Linked DNA regions of Homo sapiens: region 2 is linked to region 1. The links come from fine-mapping of genetic effects on gene expression. A gene starts in region 1. The other region holds a variant in brackets. All regions are shown on one strand. Distances are from middle to middle. Region 1 holds the start of TRIM21 (tripartite motif containing 21). Region 2 has its middle 12 kb from the start of SSU72L3.

Region 1 (10,806 bases):
CAGCGCTGATCCCACAGAAATACAAACTACCATCAGAGAATATTAATGTGTGATGGGTTATGTTTACTGATTTGTGTATGTTGAACCAACCTTGCATCCCAGGGATGCAGCCAACTTGATCATGGTGGATAAGCTTTTTGATGTGCTGCTGGATTTGGTTTATAAGTATTTTACTAAGGATTTTCTCATTGATGTTCATCAGGGTATTGGCCTGAAATTTTTTTTTTGTTGTTTCTCTGCCAGGTTTTGGTATCAGGATGATGCTGGCCTCACAAAATGAGTTAGGGAGGAGTTCCCCTTTTTCTAATGTTTGGGATAGTTTCAGAAGAATGATACCAGCTCCTCTTTGTACCTCTGGTGTAATTCAGCTGTGACTCCATCTGGTCCTGGGCTTTTTTTGGTTGGTAGGCTACTAATTACTGCCTCAATTTCAGAACTTGTTATTGGTCTATTCAGGGATTCGACTTCTTCCTGGTTTAGTCTTGGGATGGTGTATGTGTCCAGGAATTTATCCATTTCTTGTAGATTTTTTAGTTTATTTGCATAGCGGTGTTTACAATATTCTCTGATAGTACTTTGTATTTCTGTGGGATCAGTGGTGATAGCCCCTTAATCATTTTTTATTGCATCTGTTTGATTCTTCTCTCTTTTCTTCTTTATTAGTCTGGCTAGCAGTTTATCTATTTTGTTAATCTTTTCAAGAAAACCAGCTCCTGGACTCACTGATTTTTTTTGAAGGGTTTTTCATGTCTCTATCTCCTTCAGTTCTTCTCTGATCTTAGTTATTTCTTGCCTCTGCTAGCTTTTGAATTTGTTTGCTCTTGCTTCTCTAGTTATTTTCAATGTGATGTTAAGGTGTCAATTTTAGATCTTTTCTGCTTTCTCCTGTGGGCATTTTAGTGCTATAAATTTGCCTCAAACACTGCTTTAGCTGTGTCCCAGAGATTCTGGTACTTTGTGTCTTTGTTCACATTGGTTTCAAAGAACTTATTTATTTCTGACTTAATTTCATTATTTACCCAGTATTCATTCAGGAGCAGTTTGTTCAGTGTCCATGTAGTTGGGTGGTTTTGAGTGAGTTTCTTAATCCTGAGTACTAATTTGACTGCACTGTGGTCTGAGAGACTGTTATGATTTCCATGCTTTTGCATTTCCTGAGGAGTGTTTTACTTCCAATTATGTGGTAAATTTTAGAATAGTACAATCAATGTGGTGCAGGGAAGAATGTATATTCTCTGATTTGGGGTGGAGAGTTCTGTAGATGTCTATTAGGTCTGCTTGGTCCAGAGCTGAGTACAAGTCCTGAATATCCTTGTTGATTTCCTGTCTCCTTGATCTGTCTAATATTGACAGTGGGGTGTTAAAGTCTCCCACTATCATTGTGTGGGAGTCTAAGTCTTTTTGTAAGTCTCTAAGAACTTGCTTTATGAATCTGGGTGCTCCTGTATTGGGTGCATATATATTAATGATAGCTCTTTTTGTTGCATTGATGCCTTTACCATTATGTAATGCCCTTCTTTTTCTTTTTTGTTCTTTGTTGGTTTAAAGTCTGTTTTGTCAGAGACTAGGATTGCACCCTCTGCTTTTTTTTTTTTTGCTTTCTATTTCCTTGGTAAATATTCCTCCATCCCTTTATTTTGAGCCTATGTGTGTCGTCGCACATGAGATGGGTCTCCTGAATACAGCACACCAATGGTTCTTGACTCTTTATCCAATTTGTCAGTCTGTGTCTTTTAATTGGGGCATTTAGCCTGTTTACATTGAAGGTTAATATTGATCTGTGTGAATTTGATCCCGTCATTATGATGCTAGCTGGGTATTTTGCCTGTTAGTTGAGGCAGTTTCTTCATAGTGTCAATGGTCTTTACAATTTGGTATATTTTTGCAGTGGCTGGTACCAGCTTTTCCTTTTCATATTTAGAGCTTCCTTCAGGAGCTCTTGTAAGGCAGGCCTGGTGGTGACAAAAATCTCTCAGCATTTGCTTGTCTATAAAGGTTTGTATTTCTTCTTTGCTTCTGAAGCTTAGTTTGGCTGGATATGAAATTCTGGGCTGAAAATTCTTTTCTTTAAGAATGTTGATATTGGCACCCACTCTCTTCTGGCTTGTAGGGTTTCTGCAGAGAGATCCGCTGTTAGTCTGTTGGGCTTCCCTGTGTGGACAGACACTTCTCTCTGGCTGCCCTTAACATTTTTTCCTTCATTTCAACCTTGGTGAATCTGACTATTGTGTCTTAAGATTGCTCTTCTTGATGAGTATCTTTGTGGTGTTCTCTGTATTTCCCAAATTTGAATGTTGGCCTGTCTTGCTAGGTTGGGGAAGTTCTCCTGGACAGTATCATGAAGACTGTTTTCCAACTTGGTTCCATTCTCCCTGTCACTTTCAGGTACACCAATCAAATGGAGGTTTGGTCTTTTCACATAGTCCATATTTCTTGGAGGTTTTGCTTGTTCCTTTTCATTCTTTTTTCTCTAATCTTGTCTTGATGCTTTATTTCATTAAGTTGATCTTCAATCTCTGATATCCTTTCTTCCTCTTGATCAATTCGGCTATTGATTCTTGTGTATGCTTCATGAAGTTCTCATGCTATGTTTTTCAACTCCATCAGGTCATTTATCTTCTTCTCTAAACTGATGATTCTAGTTAGCAATTCCTCTAACCTTTTTTCAAGTTTCTTAGCTTCCTTGCATTGGGTTAGAACATGCTCCTTTAGCACAGAGGAGTTTCTTATTACCCACCTTCTGAAGCCTACTTCTGTCAATTCATCAAACTCATTTTCCATCCAGTTTTGTTCCCTTGCTGGCAAGGAGTTGTGATTCTTTGCAGGAGAAGAGGTGTGCTGTTTTTTGGAATTTTCAGCCTTTTTGCACTGGTTTTTCCTCATCTTCATGGATTTATCTACCTTTGGTCTTTGATATTGGTGACCTCTGGATGGGGTTTTTGTGTGGACATTCTTTTTGTTGAGGTTGACGCTATTGCTTTCTGTTTGTTAGTTTTCCTTCTAACAGGTCCCTCTGCTACAGGTCTGCTGGAGGTCCACTCCAGACCCTGTTTGCCTGGGTATCACCAGCAGAGGCTGCAGAACAGCAAAGATTGCTGCCTGTTCCTTCCTCTGGAAGCTTTGTCCCAGAGGGGCACCCGCCAGATGCCAACCAGAGCTCTCCTGTATGAGGTGTCTGTTGACCCCTCCTGGGAAGTGTCTCCCAGTCTGGAGGCACAGGGGTCAGGGACCCACTTGAGGAGGCAGTCTGTGCCTTATCAGAGCTCAAGCACTGTCCTGGGAGATCCACTGCTCTCTTCAGAGCTGGCAAGCAAGAATGTTTAAGGCTGTTGAAGCTGTGCTCACCGCCACCCCTTCCCCCAGATGCTCTGTCCCAGGGAGATGGGAGTTTTAGCTATAAGCCCCTGACTGGGGCTGCTGCCTTTCTTTCAAGATGTCATGCCCAGAGAGGAGGAATCTAGAGAGGCAGTCTGGCTACAGCAGGTTTGCGAAGCTTTGGTGGGCTCCACCCAATTCGAACTTCCCAGCAGTTTTGTTTACACTGTGAGGGGAAAACCGCCTACTCAAGCCTCAGTAATGGTGGATGCCCCTCACTCCACCAAGCTCAAGCATCTCAGGTCAATTTCAGATTGCTGCACTGGCAGCAAGAATTTCAAACCCGTGGATCTTAGCTTGCTGGGCTCCATGGGGGTGGGATCCACTGAGCTAGACCACTTGGCTCCCTGGCTTCAGCCCCCTTTCCAAGGGAGTGAACAGTTCTGTCTTGCTGGTGTTCCAGACGCCACTGGGGCATGAAAAATCCTGCCGCTAGCTCAGTGTCTGCCCAAACAGCCACCCAGTTTTGTGCTTCAAACCCAGGGTCCTGGTGGTGTAGGCATCCAAGGGAATCTCCTGGTCCGTGGGTTGCATAGACCATGGGAAAAGCATAGTATCTGGGCTGGATAGCACCATTCCATCAGGTCCTTTAAGGACTTCTCTGCATTGGTTATTCTGACCTAAAACCACAAAAACCCTAGAAGAAAACCTAGGCAATACCATTCAGGACATAGGCATGGGCAAGGACTACATGTCTTAAACACCAAAAGCAATGGCAACAAAAGACAAAATTGACAAATGGGATCTAATTAAAGAGCTTCTGCACAGCAAAAGAAACTACCATCAGAGTGAATGGGCAACCTATAGAATAGGAGAAAAATTTTGCAATTTACTCATCTGACAAAGGGCTAATATCCAGAATCTACAAAGATCTCAAACAAATTTACAAGAAAAAAACAACCCCATCAAAAAGTGGGCAAAGGATATGAACAGACACTTCTCAAAAGAAGATATTTATGCAGCCAACAGACACATGGAAAAATGCTCATCATCACTGGCCATCAGAGAAATGCAAATCAAAACCACAATGAGATACTATCTCACAGCAGTTAGAATGGCGATCATTAAAAAGTCAGGAAACAATGGGTGATAGACAGGATATGGAGAAACAGGAGCACTTTTACACTGTTGGTGGGACTGTCAACGAGTTCATCCATTGTGGAAGACAGTATGGTGATTCCTCAAGGATCTAGAACTAGAAATACCATTTGACCCAGCCATCCCATTACTGGGTATATATCCAAAAGATTATAAATCATACTGATATAAAGACACATGCACACATATGTTTATTGTGGCACTATTCACAATAGCAAAGACTTGGAACCAACCCAAATGTCCAACAATGATAGACTGGATGAAGAAAATGTGGCACATATACACCATGGAATGCTATGCAGCCATAAAAAAGGATGAGCTCATGTCCTTTGTAGGGACATGGATGAAAGTGGAAACCATCATTCTCAGAAAACTATTGCAAGGACAAGAAAACCAAACACCGCATGTTCTCACTCATAGGTGGGAATTGAACAATGAGAACACATGGACACAGGAAGGGGAACATCACACACTGAGGCCTGTCCTGGGGTGGGGGGAGGGGGGAGGGATAGCATCAGGAGATATATCCAATGTAAATGAGTTAATGGGTGCAGCACACCAACATGGCACGTGTATACATATGTAACAAACCTGCATGTTGTGCACATGTACCCTAGAACTTAAAGTATAATTTAAAAAAAAATCTAAGGCCTCAAACTATGAAACTACTACAAGAAAATATTGGGGAAACTCTCCAGGACATTGGACTGGGCAAAAATTTCTTTCAAATATTCCATAAGCACAGGCAACCAAAGCAAAACTGGACAAATGAGATCACATCAAGTTAAAAAGCTTCTGCACAGCAAAGGAAACAATGAAGTAGAGAGATAACCCACAGAATTGGAGTAAATATTTGCAAACTATCCATCTGACAAGGGATTAATAACCAGAATATACAAAGAACTCAAACAACTCTATAGGAAAAAAATATAATAATCTGATTCAAAAATGGACAAACGATCTGAATAGACATTCCTCAGAAGAAGACATACAAGTGGCAAATGGATATATGAAAATGTGTTCAACACCACTGATCATCAGAGAAATGCAAATCAAAACTACGAGATATTATCTCACCTCAGTTAAAATGTCTTTTAACCAAAAGAAAGGCAATAACAAATGCTGGCAAGGATATGTAGAAAAGGGAACCCTCATACACTGTCAATGGGAATGGAAATTAGTACAAACACTATGGCAAACAATTTGAAGGTTCCTCAAAAAAAAAAAAAAACCTGAAAATAGAGCTACCATGTAATCTAGCAATCCTACTGGATACTGCTAGGTATATACCCAGAAGAAATACTGTTAGGTATATATCCAAGAGAAAGGAAATCAGTATATCAAAGAGATATCTGCACTCCCATGTTTATCGCAGCACTATTCACAATAGCCAAGATTTGGAAGCAACGTAAGTGTCCATCAACAGATAAATGGATAAGGAAAGTGTGGTACACATACACAATGGAGCACTATTCAGCCATAAAAAGAAGGAGAACCTTTCATTTGCTACAAGATGGATGGAATTGGGGATTATTATGTTAAGTAAAATAAACCAAACACAGGCAAACAAACAAATTGTTATGTTCTCACTTATTTGTGGGAGTTAAAAATTAAAACAATCCAACTCATGAAGATAGAGAGGATGATGGTTACCAAAGGCTGGGAAGGGTAGTGGGGAATGATTAATGGGTTCAAAAATACATGAGAGAGAATGAATAAGATCTAGTATTTTATAGCATAACAAGGTGAATACAGTCAATGATAATTTATCATTTTAAAATAACTAAAAGCATATAACTGGATTGTATATAACACAAATGATAAGTGCTTGAGGTGATGGATAGATACCCCACTTACCCTGATATGATTATTACGGATTGTATGCTCTACCTGTATCAAAATATTTCATGTACCCCACAAATATATACACCTACTATAGACACACAAGATTGAAAATTAAAAAAATTACTTTGGTAAATTTTATGTTCTATATTTTTACGATTAAAAATAAAAATAATATAACCTGAGAATGTCCCTAGCTCAGTGACAAGAACACAGTTGGTTGTCAAATGTCAATTTCCTTCTCACCACTCACTGGTGGGACACTCACCTTGGGGTCATGCGAAATAAATCACTCACCTGCAGGCGTTAAAAAATATTAGTCACATCAGTCACATGAAAATAATTAGCTTCTGGAAGTAAGCAGATGGTGGCACGCGAGGAAGAGCACCGGCCACTCTTCTCTGCATCAAAACTTCCTTAAAAGCATCTTCCAGACATGGACATAGCGTCTAGGTGTGGAGTGATGACCAGTGTCAAAGAAAGCAGCCCGGACTCCCCCGTCTTGTAGATATTTTACCAAATCAGATAATGAAGACATGGGAGGGAGCGCGCAACCAGGACCACGGGCTACTGAGTTTCCACTCCTTCCCAGTCTCAGAGAAGCCTCCTGGGCATGCAGAGCCTCTGAAGCCTCCCCCAGCTCAACTCTGACTTCTCTTCTCAGCCGCATTTCTCCACACACCCTTTCAAGGCTCTGCTCCTCCCACTGCTCCTCCCTCACTCCTCCCACGGCTCCTCCTCCTCCCTCCCCTTTCCTCTCAGACTTGCTTCTGAGCGGAAACTGAAAGTGAAATAGGGAGCTGGCTACCAGCGTTGAGTCCCCTGTAAAGGTGAGTGAACCCCACTAGATCAAGGGACCCCTGCCCTCCTAGGGGACCTCTCTCCCCTGCCCCAGGGTTGCAGAGCCCCTTCCAGTCTCCATCCTTGAGCCGGTCCCATTTGCCCCTTCTCCCACCAGGGATCCCTCAACCCAAGACCAGCTGCGCTTCCGGTGCTGGCCCCCTGCTTGGGAGGAGGCTGGGGTGTGGACCTGACTGCCGAGTTACCCAGAAGGGGAAGGGGCCCGGCTGCCCCCTACCTGGGAGGAGGCTGGGTTGTGGACGTGACTGTGGAGTTACCCAGAAGGGGAAGGGGCCCGGCTGCCCCCATGCTGGCACCTGACCTAGGATGACGGCTGGGTGTGGCTGGGATAGCCAGGACTACAGCCTAGCCAGGAGGGTAGGGAGCCCAGTGTCGGGGAGGTCTGCAATTCTGGAGACTCCCAGGTCCAAAAGTCCTCCAGAGGTGAGAGGGGCAGGCTGTTTAGGATGTTCAACCAGAAATGTATAGGCCTTCAGAATTATTCTTTGTCCTAGAATAAGTGTTGTCAGGAACTAAACTAAGTTTGGAGCAGCTGAGAAAAGAGCCCAGGGAGTGCTGGCCACGGTTCCTGTTACTCTGTGTGTATACATACATATACACCTACATACATATATGCAACTGACTTCCGCCGTTATAGGAGGGATTAATGAAGATATATTCAAAGCATGAAGTATCTCTGGCACATGGAAGGTACATGGTAAAAAGTAGCTATAATTTCTCAGCAACATGGAGGCCTGTTGGTACCCGACAGGAGATGGATGAGCACTGAGGGTTTAAGCAGGAATGGACATGATGAGAGTAGAACTGTCAACAGCTTTATGAGGTTCTTGCCAATTTTCATTCCCTCTTTTAGGGACTCAGTTTCTCCTTCTGTCTCACTGGATCAATGGACCAAACAATGGAGGAGTTCTTGTTATTCAGAACAGGAATAAACTTATTCAACAAACTGTTTGATCGGTGCAAAAGTAATTACTGTTTTTGACATTAATTGTTTTGCCATTAATTTTATGCCTTGTTTTGTTTTGTTTTGTTTTTGAGAGGGAGTCTCGCCGTGTCACCCAGGCTGGAGTGCAATGGCACAATCTTGGCTCACTGCAACCTCTGCCTCCCAGGTTCAAGCAATTCTCCTGCCTCAGCCTCCCAAGTAGCTGGGATTACAGGTGCCCACCACCACTCCCAGCTAATTTTTGTATTTTTAGTAGAGACAGGGTTTTACCATATTGGTCAGGCTGGTCTTGAACTCCTGACCTAAGGTGATCCACCCACCTCGGCCTCCCAAAGTGCTGGGATTACAGGTGTGAGCCACCGTGCCTGACCCATTATTTTTATTCTTATTTTTTATTTTCCTTTGCATCATTTTGTTTTTCTTTTTTTAGTATATTTTTAATTTTTGTGGGCACATAGTAGGTATATTTATGGGTATATGGAATATTGTGATACAGGTATACAATGTGTAATAATCACATCAGGGTAAGTGGGGCATCTATCACCTCAAGCATTGATCATCTGTAATACAAACTATGCAATTATACTCTTATTTTTAATGTACAATTAAATTATTGACTATAGTCACCCTGTTGTACTATCAAATACTAGATCTAATTCACTCCACTTTTGTACCCATTAACCATCCCATCTTCTCCCCCACACACAGACCCTCCCTATTACTCTTCCCAGCCTCTGGTAACCATCTTTCTATTATCTAACTCCATGAGTTCAATTGTTTTAATTTTTAGCTTCTACAAATGAGTGAGACCATACAATGTTTGTGTTTCTGTGCCTGGCTTATTTCACCTAACATAATGACCTCCAGTTCCATTCATGTTGTTGTGAATGACAGGATCTCATTATATTTTATGACTGAACAGTACTCCATTGTGTATACATACCACATTTTCTTTATCCATATATCTGTTGATGGACTCTTAGATTGCTTCCAAATCTTGGCTATTGTGAAACGTGCTGCAGTAAACATGGAAGTGTGGATATCTCTTTGATATACTGATTTCCTTTCTTTGGGGTATATGCTAGCAGTGGGATTGATGGATCATATGGTAGCTCTATCTTCAGTATTTTGAAGAACCTCCAAACTGTTCTCTGTAGTGATTGTACTAATTTACCTTCCCACCAACAGCATATGAGTGTACCCTTTTCTCCACACCCTCACCAGCATTTGTTATAGCCTGTCTTTTGGAGAAAAGACATTTTAACTGAGATGAGATTATATCTCATTGTAGTTTTGATTTGCATTTTTCTGATAATCAATGATGTTGAGCAACTGTTCATATGCCTGTTTGTCATTTGTATGACTTCTTTTGAGAAATGTCTGTTCAGATCTTTTGTCCATTTTTGAGTCAGATTATTATTTTTTTTCCTATAGAGTTGTTTGAGCTCCTTATATATTCTGGTTATTCATCCCTTGTCAGATGGATAGTTTACAAATATTTACTCCAATTCTGTGGGCTGTCTCTTCACTTTGTGGATTGTTTCTTTTGCTGTGCAGCACCTTTTCAACATGATGTGATCCCATTTGTCCAAGTTTGCTTTGGCTGCCTGTGCTTGTGGGATATTTGAAAGAAATCTTTGCCCAGTCCAATGTCCTAGAGAGTTTTCCCAATGTTTTCTTATAATAGTTTCATAGTTTGAGGCCTTAGATTTAAGTCTTTAATCCATTTTGATTTGATTTCTGTATACGGTGAGACATAGGAGTGTAGTTTCATTCTTCTGCATGTGGATATCCAGTTTTCCCAGCAGCATTTATTGAAGAGACTGTCCTTTCCTCACTGTATGTTCTTGGTAGCTTTGTTGAAAATGTGCTCACTGTGGATGTACAGATTTGTTTCTGGGTTCTTTATTCTACTGGTCTATGTGTCTGTTTTTATGCCAGTACCATGCTGTTTGGGTTACTTTAGCTCTACAGTATAATTTGACGTCAGATGATGTGATTCCTCCAGTTTTGTTCTTTTTGCTCAGGATAGCTTTGGCTATTCTGAGTCTTTTGTGATTCCATATAAATTTTAGGATTGTTTTTTCCTATTTTTGTGAAGAATGTCATTGGTATTTTGATAGGGATTATGTTGACTTTTTGTTTTTCTTACACAGACTTTCTCATATTCTCTTTTCCCTTTCTTCTTCTCTCCCAGCCAAACCCCCTAAAGGTCTCCACACTGCTGTTTAACGGCACACTTGACAATGGCTTCAGCAGCACGCTTGACAATGATGTGGGAGGAGGTCACATGCCCTATCTGCCTGGACCCCTTCGTGGAGCCTGTGAGCATCGAGTGTGGCCACAGCTTCTGCCAGGAATGCATCTCTCAGGTTGGGAAAGGTGGGGGCAGCGTCTGTCCTGTGTGCCGGCAGCGCTTTCTGCTCAAGAATCTCCGGCCCAATCGACAGCTAGCCAACATGGTGAACAACCTTAAAGAAATCAGCCAGGAGGCCAGAGAGGGCACACAGGGGGAACGGTGTGCAGTGCATGGAGAGAGACTTCACCTGTTCTGTGAGAAAGATGGGAAGGCCCTTTGCTGGGTATGTGCCCAGTCTCGGAAACACCGTGACCACGCCATGGTCCCTCTTGAGGAGGCTGCACAGGAGTACCAGGTGAGGCCTAAGAGACACCTGGTGAGTGCT
Region 2 (11,047 bases), 77 kb after region 1:
CCAAAATCAGCCTCTCTCCTCTTCCCTCCTCGGATCGCAAGCCCAGGGCCTAACTGACAACACTCATAAAGCACCCCCTACCAGTTCTCCCTTCAGGCCCTCAAGCAACCAGTTTCTCTTGGGTGAGTACCTAAGACTGAAATGTCTGGGCTATAGGATAAATATATGTTGAACTTCCTAAGAATTGCCAAGTTTTTTTTCCAAAGTGGTTTAATCAGTTTACATTCCCAGCATCAGCGTCCCCATTGTTCCACAACTTCACCAACATTCATTCTTTCTCACCTTTTCTATTTTAGCCATTTAGTGTTTCTGAGTGGAATTTTGGGATTTTGGTTTGCATTTCCCTGATGACTAAAGATGCTGAGCATCACCTCATGTGTTTATGGTACATTTGTACACCTTGTTTTGTGAAGTTTATTTATAATAATTCATAATAAAATCCATTTTCTATTTTGAAGATTGTTCTTCTTTTTCATTTTATGTATTTGTGCTATTCTTCTCAACTCTTTAAAAAAATAGATTTGCTCCTGTTTCTGTTTTGTTTGGCGTTGTTGTTTTGTTGTTGATGTGTTTCAAACAACCTGGTATGTTACTGTTTGGCAGGGTTGTCTCCTAATAGACTGCAAACCCCTTGAGGGCAAAAGGTAGACTTCTTTATCTGCCCTTCCAGATCAGCCAGAAAAGTTCCTAGAACATAGTAAATGCTCGGTAAATGTTCCTTGTGTCAGTATTGACAGACAATGACTTCCTATTACAGCTCATTGCTGACTCTAGCCCAGCAAGGGGATTGTACTAACTAGGCCCATGCCATTATCTAGGCTCCTGTAGTGTCAGGGGCATGATTACATCATAAAAATTACAACTTTGAGGTTATCTTTCATAGTTCTAGCATCCTCATTATACTAGACTCAATGACCAGAACTGTGCATATTCATCTTGGCTCACTGCTCATACAGTACCTGGATACTTTAGGAATTCAGTTCTTAATTGTGTTTTGTTTTTTAGAGACAAGGTCTTGCTCTGTCACCTACTCTGGAGTACAGTGGCACAATCAAAGCTCACTGCAGCCTTGAACTCCTGGAATCCAGTGATCCTCAGCCTCCTAAGTAGCTAGAACTATATGAGTGTACCACCATGCCAAGCTCATTTTTTTTTCTAGAGATGGGGTCTCACTATGTTGGCCAGGCAGGTCTCGAGCTCCTAACCTCAGGCAATCCTCCCACTTGGGCCTCCCAAAGCATGGCTTGCCAGTTCCTAATTTTTGAACCAAGTCTGCAGCACTGTAGGTAGAGAGGGGAAGCCAGAAGCCATAGTTTATTATCTGAGAAATGTATACTATAAGAAATTTTGGAAAAATACAACCGATGTATCATTTTCCTGAGTTAGCATGGATTGGAAAGGGTAAGCCTATAAGCAGAGACCAGTTAGAAGTCTGGTGTGATCATCCAGGTGACAGAGGATAAATCCTAAACCAGTCCCTTGGGGCTTTGGGACACTTGTGGATAAGCAGAAACTACATCCAACATCTGAGCAAAATGGAGGAGCTTGTACTAACCTTCCAATCAATAGTAAACATAGAAGCTAGGTAAAATACTTAAAGCAACCAAAGTTGTTAAAGAAAAAAACAATCCAAGTGGGACTTGAAGGGAAGATTGCTGGAAAGAATGTACACTAGTGCAGCTATGCAAGCTGCATTTGCCTCTGCTTTTGCCCTCAGAGCATTTGCTAAGTCCTGGCATGTGCAACAAAGACCAAGTTGAAAGGTAGTGGGAGCTTGTAGCATTCTCAGTGTCAGGCCTCTGAGCCCAAGCTAAGCCATCATATCCCCTGTGACCTGCATGTATACATCCAGAGGGCCTGAAGCAACTGAAGAATCACAAAAGAAGTGATATTTAAATGGCCTCTTCCTGCCTTAACTGATGACATTCCACCACAAAAGAAAACAAAATGGCCTGTCCTTGCCTTAACTGATGACATTACTTTGTGAAATTCCTTCTCCTGGCTCATCCTGGCTCAAAAACTCCCCCACTGAGCACCTTGTGAGCCCCCACTCCTGCCCACCAGAGAACAACCCCCTTTTTCCTTTACCTACCCAAATCTTATAAAACGGCCCCACCCCTATCTCCCTTCGCTGACACTCTTTTCGGACTCAGCCTGCCTGCACCCAGGTGAAATAACCAGCCTTGTTGCTCACGCAAAGCCTGTTTGGTGGTCTCTTCACACAGACGTGAATGAAATTTTGGTGCCATGACTCGGATCAGGGGACCTCCCTTGGGAGATCAATCCCGTGTCCTCCTGCCTTTCACTCTGTGAGAAAGATCCACTTACGACCTCATGTCCTCAGACCAACTAGCCCAAGGAACATCACACCAATTTTCAATCAGGTAAGTGGCCTCTTTTTACTCTCTTCTCCAACCTCTCTCACTATCCCTCAACTTCTTGCTCCTTTCAATCTTGGCACCACACTTCAATCTCTCCCTTCTCTTAATTTCAGTTTCTTTACTTTTCTCCTACAGACAGGAGATGAGTTTTATCCGTGGACCCAAAACTTCAGCGCCGGTCATGGACTCGGGAAGACAGTCTTCCCTTGGTGTTTAATCACACGGGGACACCTGATTATTCATCCACGTTTCAGAGGTGTCTGACCACACAGGGATGCCTGCCTTGGTCTTTCGCCCTTAGTGGCAAGTACCACTTTTCTGGGGGGCAAGAACCCCCCACCCCTTCTCTCCGTGTCTCTACCCCTTCTCCGCTTTTCTGGAGGGCAAGAACCCCCCACCCCTTCTCTCCGTGTCTCTACCCCTTCTCTGCTTTTCTGGGTGGCAAAAACCCCCCAACCCCTTCTCTCCATGTCTCTACCCCTTCTCCACTTTCCTGGGTGCAAGCACCCCCCACCCCTTCTCTCCATGTCTCTACTCTCTCTTTTCTCTGGGCTTGCCTCCTTCACTATGGGCAGCCTTTCACCCTCCATTCCTCCTTCTTCTCCCTTAGCCTGTGTTCTCAAGAACTTAAAACCTCTTCAACTCACACCTGACCTAAACCTAAATGCCTTATTTTATTCTACAATGCCGCCTGACCCCAATACAAACTCAACAGTGTTTCCAAATAGCCAGAAAACAGCACTTTCGATTTTTCCATCCTACAAGATCTACATAATTCTTACCGTAAAATAGGCAAATGATCTGAGGTGCCTGATGTCCAGGCATTCTTTTACACATTGTTCCTTCCCTAGTCTCTGTTCCCAGTGTGACTCATCCCAAATACTCCTTCTTTCCCTCCCTCCTGTCCTCTCAGTCCCAATCCCAAGCATAGTTGAGTCTTTCTAATCTTCCTTTTCTACAGACCCATCTGACTTCTCCCCTCCTCCCCAGGCTGCTCCTCGCCAGGCCAAGCCAGGTCCCCATTCTTCCTCAGCCTCCACTCCTCCACCCTGTAATCCTTCTATCACCTCCCCTCTTCACACCCAGTCCAGCTTACAGTTTAGTTCCGTGACTAGCTCTTCCCCACCTGCCCAACAATTTCCTCTTAGAGAAGTGGCTGCAGCTGAAGGCATAGTCAGGGTACATGTACCTTTTTCTCTATCAGACCTCTCTCAGATCAGTCAGCGTTTAGGCTCTTTCTCATCAGACCCCACTAAATACATACAGGAATTCCAATATCTTACTCTGTCCTACAATTTAACCTGGAGTGACTTAAATGTCATCCTGACTTCTACCCTCTCCCCAGGTGAACGAGAATGAGTTTTTTCTCTAGCCCAATCTCATGCTGATAACCACCGGCTTCATGAGCCAGACCTCCAGGAAGGTATTAGAGCAGTTCCTCGAGAGGATCCCCAATGGAACTATCAGGCAGATTCCCCAGGTATAGCTAGGTGAGATTACATGATTTCCCGCCTAATTGAACGGCTTTAAAAGGCAGCTTACAAAGCTGTTAATTATGACAAGCTGAAAGAAACTACCCAAGGTAAAGATGAAAACCCAGCCCAGTACATGGCCCACTTAGCAGTGACCCTTAGACGCTTTACTGCCCTAGACCCAGAAGGGCCAGAGGGCCGCCTTATTCTTAATATGCATTTTATCACCCAGTCCACTCCCAACATTAGGAAAAAACTTCAAAAATTAAATTCCGGCCCTCAAACCCCACAACAGGATCTAATTAACCTCGCCTTCCAGGTGTACAATAATAGAGTAGAGGCAGCCAAGTAGCAACATATTTCTGAGTTGCAATTCCTTGCCTCCACTGTGAGCGAAACCCCAGCCACATCTCCAGCACACAAGAACTCCAAATGCCTGAACTGCTGCTGCCGGGGGTTCCTCCAGAACCTCCTCCCCCAGGAGCTTGCTACAAGTGCTGGAAATCTGGCCACTAGGCCAAGGAATGCCCACATCCCAGGATTCCTCCTAAGCCGTGTCCCATCTGTGCGAGACCCCAGTGAAAATCAAACTGTTCAACTCACCTGGCAGCCACTTCCAGAACCCCTGGAACTCTGGCCCAAGGCTCTCTGACTCCTTCCCAGATCTTCTCGGCTTAGCAGCTGAAGACTGACATTGCCCGATCACCTCGGAAGCCTACAGGACCATCACAGATGCTCTGGGTAACTCTCACAATGGAAGGTAAGTCCATCCCCTTCTTAATCAATAAGGAGGCTACCCACTCCACATTACCTTCTTTTCAAGAGCCTGTCTCCCTTGCCTCCATAACTGTTGCAGGTATTGACTGCCAGGCCTCTAAACCTCTTAAAACTCCCCAACTCTGGTGCCAACTTAGACAATA[C/G]TCTTTTAAGCACTCCTTTTTCATTATCCCCACCTGCCCAGCTCCCTTATTAGGCCGAGACATTTTAATTAAATTATCTGCTTCCCTGTCTATTCCTGGGCTACATCTCATTGCCGCCCTTCTTCCCAACCCAAAGCCTCCTTTGTATCTTCCTCTCGTATCCCCCCACCTTAACCCACAAGTATAAGACATCTCTACTCCCTTCCTGGCAACCGATCACATGACCATTACCATCCTATTAAAACCTAATCACCCTTACCCGCCTCAACGCCAATATCCTATCCCACAGCACGCTTTAAAAGGATTAAAGCCTGTTATCACACACCTGCTACAGCATGGACTTTTAAAGCCTATAAACTCCCCTTACAGTTCCCCCATTTCACCTGTCCTAGAACCAGACAAGTCTTTCTTACAGGTTAGTTCAGGATCTGTGCCTTATCAACCAAATTGTTTTGCCTCTCCACCCCGTGGTGCCAAACCCATATACTCTCCTATCCTCAATACCTCCCTCCACAACCCATTATTCTGTCTGGATCTCAAACATGCTTTCTTTACTATCCCTTTGCACCCTTCATCACTTAGACTGACCCTGACACCAATCAGGCTCAGCAAATTACCTGGGCTGTACTGCCACAAGCCTTCACAGACAGCTCCCATTGCTTCAGTCAAGCCCAAATTTCATCCTCATCTGTTACCTATCTCGGCATAATTCTCATAAAAACACACGTGCTCTCCCTGCTGATCATGTCCAACTAATCTCCCAAACCTCAATCCCTTCTACAAAACAACAACTCCTTTCCTTCCTAGGCATGGTTAGTGCAGTCAGAATTCTTACACAAGAGCCAGGACCGCACCCTGTAGCCTTTCTGTCCAAAAAACTTGACCTTACTGTTTTGCCTAGCCCTCATGTCTGCGTGCAGTGGCTGCCACTGCTTTAATAATTTTAGAGGCCCTCAAAACCACAAACTATGCTCAACTCACTCTCTATACTTCTTATAACTTCCAAAACCTATTTTCTTCCTCACACCTGATGCATATACTTTCTGCTTCCCGGCTCCTTCAGCGATACTCACTCTTTGTTGAGTCTCCCACAATTACCATTGTTCCCGGCCCAGACTTCAATCTGGCCTCCCGCATTATTCCGGATACCACACCTGACCCTCATGACTGTATCTCTCTGATCCACCTGACATTCACCCCATTTCCCCATATTTCCTTCTTTCCTGTTCCTCACCCTGATCACGCTTGATTTATTGATGGCAGTTCCACCAGGCCTAATCGCCACACACCAGCAAAGGCAGGCTATGCTATAGAACAAGCCAACAGCCCAACTCTTAGAACCTCTCATTTCCTTTCCATCGTGGAAATCTATCCTCAAGGAAATCACTTCTCAGTGTTCCATCTGCTATTCTACTACTCCTCAGGGATCATTCAGGCCCCCTCCCTTCCCTACACATCAAGCTCGGGGATTTGCCCCCGCCCAGGACTGGCAAATTGGCTTTACTCAACATGCCCCGAGTCAGGAAACTCAGATACCTCTTGGTCTAGGTAGATACTTTCACTGGATAGGTAGAGGCCTTTCTCACAGGGTCTAAGAAGGCCACCGCAGTCATTTCTTCCCTTCTGTCAGACATAATTCCTCAGTTTGGGCTTCCCACCTCTATACAGTCCGATAACGGACCGGCCTTTGTTAGTCAAATCACCCAAGCAGTTTCTCAGGCTCTTAGTGTTCAGTGAACTAATGGTCTTTTAAAAACTCACCTCACCAAGCTCAGTCACCAACTTAAAAAGGAATGGGCAATACTTTTACCACTTGCCCTTCTCAGAATTCAGGCCTGTCCTCAGAATGCTGCAGGGTACAGCCCATTTGAACTGCTCTATAGACGCTCCTTTTTTTTTTTTTTTTTTTTTTTTTTTTTTTTTTTTTTTGAGACGGAGTCTCGCTCTGTCGCCCAGGCCGGACTGCGGACTGCAGTGGCGCAATCTCGGCTCACTGCAAACTCCGCTTCCCGGGTTCACGCCATTCTCCTGCCTCAGCCTCCCGAGTAGCTGGGACTACAGGCGCCCGCCACCGCGCCCGGCTAATTTTTTTTTTTGTATTTTTAGTAGAGACGGGGTAGACGCTCCTTTTTATTAGGCCCCAGTCTCATTCCAGACACCAGACCAACTTGGACTGCGACCGCCCCCGAAAAAAAAAAAAAAAAAAGCTTGTCTTCCCTACTATCTTCTATCTAGTCATACTCCTATTCACCATTCTCAACTACTCATAAATGCCCTGCTCTTGTTTACACTGCCGGTTTACACTGTCTCTCCAAGCCATCACAGCTGATATCTCATGGTGCTATCCCCAAACTGCCATTATTAACTCCCTCCTAAAGTAAATAATCTTTGCTGGCAGGGCTATGCTGAACCTCCTTAGGCACTCTCTAGTTAAATGTCCTGGGTTCTCCCAATTCTTAGTCCTTTAATACCTGTTGTTCTCTCTGTCTTATTCTGCTCTTTTTTCAATTCATACAAAGCCATATCCAGGCCATCACCAATAATTCTATACGAAAAATGTTTCTTCTAACAACCCCACAATATCACCCCTTACCACAAAATCTTCCTTCAGCTTACTCTCTCCCACTCGAGGTTCCCACGCTGCCCCTAATCAAAGCATCCCTGAGAAACATCGCCCATTATCTATCCATACCACCCCCCAAAATTTTCACTGCCCAAACACTTCAACACTATTATATTTTATTTTTCTTATTAATATAAGAAGACAGGAATGTCAGGCCTCCGAGCCCAAGCTAAGCCATCATATCCCCTGTGACCTGCTTGTATACATCCAGAGGGCCTGAAGCTACTAAAGAATCACAAAAGAAGTGATATTTAAATGGCCTGTTCCTGCCTTAACTGATGACATTCCACCATAACAGAAGTGAAAATGGCTGGTCCTCACCTTAACTGATGACATTACTTTGTGAAATTCCTTCTCCTGCTTCATCCTGGCTCAAAAACTCCCCCACTGAGCGCCTTGTGACCCCCCACTCCTGCCCACCAGAGAACAACCCCCTTTTTCCTTTACCTACCCAAATCTTACAAAACGGCCCCACCCCTATCTCCCTTCGCTGACTCTCTTTCGGACTCAGCCCGCCTGCACCCAGGTGAAATAAACAGCCTTGCTGCTCACGGAAAGCCTGTTTGGTGGTCTCTTCACACGGACGCGAGTGAAACCCAGCAGGCTAGGAATAAAGAAGTTGCAGTTCAGGGATACCATGGAGTCTGAGACCTGAGATAGAAGAGGCAGCCTTAGAGAAAATTGGGCCAAAGTTCAGCGTGCCGATTCCCCTTGAGGAGTTTGCCAATTCCTAAGCTGTGCATGTTCAGGGCAAGATTCTCAGCACCTGAATTGAAAGCAGCAGCTGTGAAGCTAAACAGTTATGCAAAGACTAGCAGTCTGATGGTGCTGGGGAGTCAGAGGCTGGAGGTCAGGGCCTGAGGAGGTAGAGCAACCCTTGTAAATAAACACTGAAACACTAGGAAGCTTTGAAACACTAGAAGGGCTGTACTCTAGGAGTAAGGACAACCCAGAAAAAGATCAACGCTAGCACTAGCAAAAGTTAAGCGTCCTCTCAGATGGATCAAGATCTGCCAGTACCCTTATCTGCCTGAATTCTTTCTAGAGAAACGTAACAGTTTCAGAGAACAGAGTCTCTAGTTTTTTCATATAAAATCACTATCCATTCACACACACCAAGCATGCCAAGAAACTAACAAATAACTAAAAAAAAAAGTGGAAAAAAATAGCGACAGAACCACAGGTGATCTAAACATTGGAACTATGAGGGATTTTAAAATAAAATGATTCTCCAGGTCCTGTTAGAAAATATTGGTTGCATCTTCTGAAAAAGAGATGCCCGCATCTAAGAACTCCAGGAGCTCAAGTAGCTGCCTCTTACCTATTACCACCACAGGCTCAGCAAGAAGATACACAGAGATGTTCCTCCTGAGCAGAATTATTTTTTTTTCTTACATTAAGTTCTAGGGCACATGCGCAAAACGTGCAGGTTTGTTACATATGTATACCTGTGCCGTGTTTGTTTGTTGCACCCATTAACTCATCATTTACATTAGGTATTTCTCCTAATGCTATCGCTCCCCCATCTCCCCACCCCAAGACAGGCCCCAGTGTGTGATGTTCCCCACCCTGTGTCCAAGTGTTCTCATTGTTCAATTCCCACCTATGAGTGAGAACATGTGGTGTTTGGTTTTCTGTCCTTGCAACAGTTGTGAGCAAAGTCTTTAATACTAGCTGAATGTTGGTGCAAACTCTAGATAATGTCATGAACTGAGCTACCAACTGTGAGCTGGGAGGACTCATTTGTATCTCAGACCTGAAGTCTCTATTAAACAGGCCTCTGTGGCCCCTTTTCCTATGGCCTTCATCCAAATATTTATCCTCTAGAGCTTACCATTCTAAAAAGAAAGAAATGATTACCCCATACAAAAGTGGACAAAGGAAAAAAAAAACAGCATTTATTCTCAGTGTATTTTTGCTTAGCCTCTTTCAATAAGCACTACCCCTATAACTACAAGCCGATTGCTGTACATCCTGGGACAGCTCATATTTGAATTGTTTTTCCTCTGCAAATGGAGTGATGAGAGGGGTTCCTTGGACTTGAACTAGAAGTTAGAGTCTTCAACGTACTGATTTCATATATTTGGATATATACACAGTAGTGAGATTGCTGGATCATAGCTAGTTCTATTTTTAATTTTTTTATGACTGTCCATACTGTTTTCCATAATAGTTATACTATCTAACATTCCCACCAACAATGTGCAAGGGTTCCCCTTCTCCCCATTCTCTCCAACACTTTTTATCTTTTGTCTTTTCGTTAATAGTCATTCTAACATGTATGAGGTGATATCTCATTGTGGTTTTAATTTGCATTTCCCTGATGATTAATTTTGTTGACCTTTTTCTTTTCTTCATTTACCTATGGGCCATTTGTATGTCTTATTTGAGAATTGCCTATTTAGGTGCTTTGCCCATTTTTTAAGAAGTTTATTCCCTACTATTGGGTTGTTGGAATTATTTATATATTTTGGCTATTAACCCCTTATCAGATAAAGGTTTGCAAATATTTTCTCCCATTCCATAGATTGCCTTTTTCTTCTGTTATTTCCTGCCTATGCAGAAGTTTTTCTAGTTTCAAATAATTCTGCCAATTTTCATTTTTGTTGCCTATGCTTTTGGATTCTTATTCAAAAAATTGTTGCCCAGACCAATGTCATGAAGCTTTTCCCCCATTTTCTACTAGCTGTTTTAAAGTTTCTAGTCTTACAGTTAAGCCTTTAATCCATTTTGATGTAATTTTTGTATGTAGAGTGAGATAAGGATCTAATTTTATTCTTTTGTTTGTGGATATTGAGTTATCCCAATACCATTTATTAAAGACACTGATTGTCCCCCTTGTCTGTTCTTGCCACCTTTGGCAAAAGTCAATTGACAGTAAATGTGTGGAATTATACCTAGGCTCTTTAGTCTGCTCCATTGGTCTTTGTGTCCTTTTGTTAACGTTAGTACCTTGCTGTTTTAATTACTATAGCTTTATAATATATTTTGTAGTATATTTTGAAGTCAGGTGTTATTATACCTCCAGTTTTGGTTTTTGTATTTTATTTTTCATGTTTTACTTGAGAGTGCTTTGGCTATTCAAGGTCTTATATGGTTCCATAATAATTTTAAGGTTGTGTTTTCTACCTCTGTGAAGAATGTCATTGGTATTTTGATAGGGACTACACTGAATCTGTAGATTGCTTTGGGTAGTGTGGATGTTTTAACAATATTAATTCTCCCAATCCATGAACAGAGGCTATCTTCCCATTTATTTGTGTCTTCTTCAGTTTCCTTCATCAATGTTTTCTAGTTTTCAGTGTACAGGTTTTTCACTTCCTTGGCTAAATATATTCCTAAGTAACTTATTCTTATTAATGCTATCATAAATGAAATTGTGTTCTTGATTTCTTTTTTAGATAGTTTCTTGTTAGTGTATAGAAAAGCTACTAATTTTATGTGTTAATTTTATATCTTGCTAATTTACTGAATTTTTATCAGTGCTAACAGTTTTTTGGTGGAGTCTATAAAGTTTTCTTCATATACAATCATGTCATCTGCAAACCAGGGACAATTTAACTGCTTCCTTTTCGATCTAGAAACCTTTTATTTCTTTCTCCTGCTGAATTGCTCTGGCTAGGACTTCCAGTACTATGCTGACTAGAAGTG

Evidence for each region. PIP is the estimated chance that this variant, and not a neighbour inherited with it, causes the effect.
Region 2: its variant is the best candidate, but not a certain one, in a credible set for the expression of TRIM21 in whole blood (INTERVAL, PIP 0.81).

Annotation. Positions count from the first base shown.
Region 1 is chr11:4,389,972-4,400,777 of GRCh38, reverse strand. TRIM21 (tripartite motif containing 21) reads left to right here and starts at 7,076. Exons shown (of 7, transcript NM_003141.4): 1 at 7,076-7,145; 2 at 10,320-10,776. The coding sequence starts at 10,369. RefSeq lists enhancers at 6,896-6,955, 6,976-7,185.
Region 2 is chr11:4,312,644-4,323,690 of GRCh38, reverse strand. No RefSeq gene overlaps it. Among named protein-coding and RNA genes, the nearest start is that of SSU72L3, 12 kb to the left of the region's middle. The variant C/G (reference allele first, on the strand shown) is at 4,774.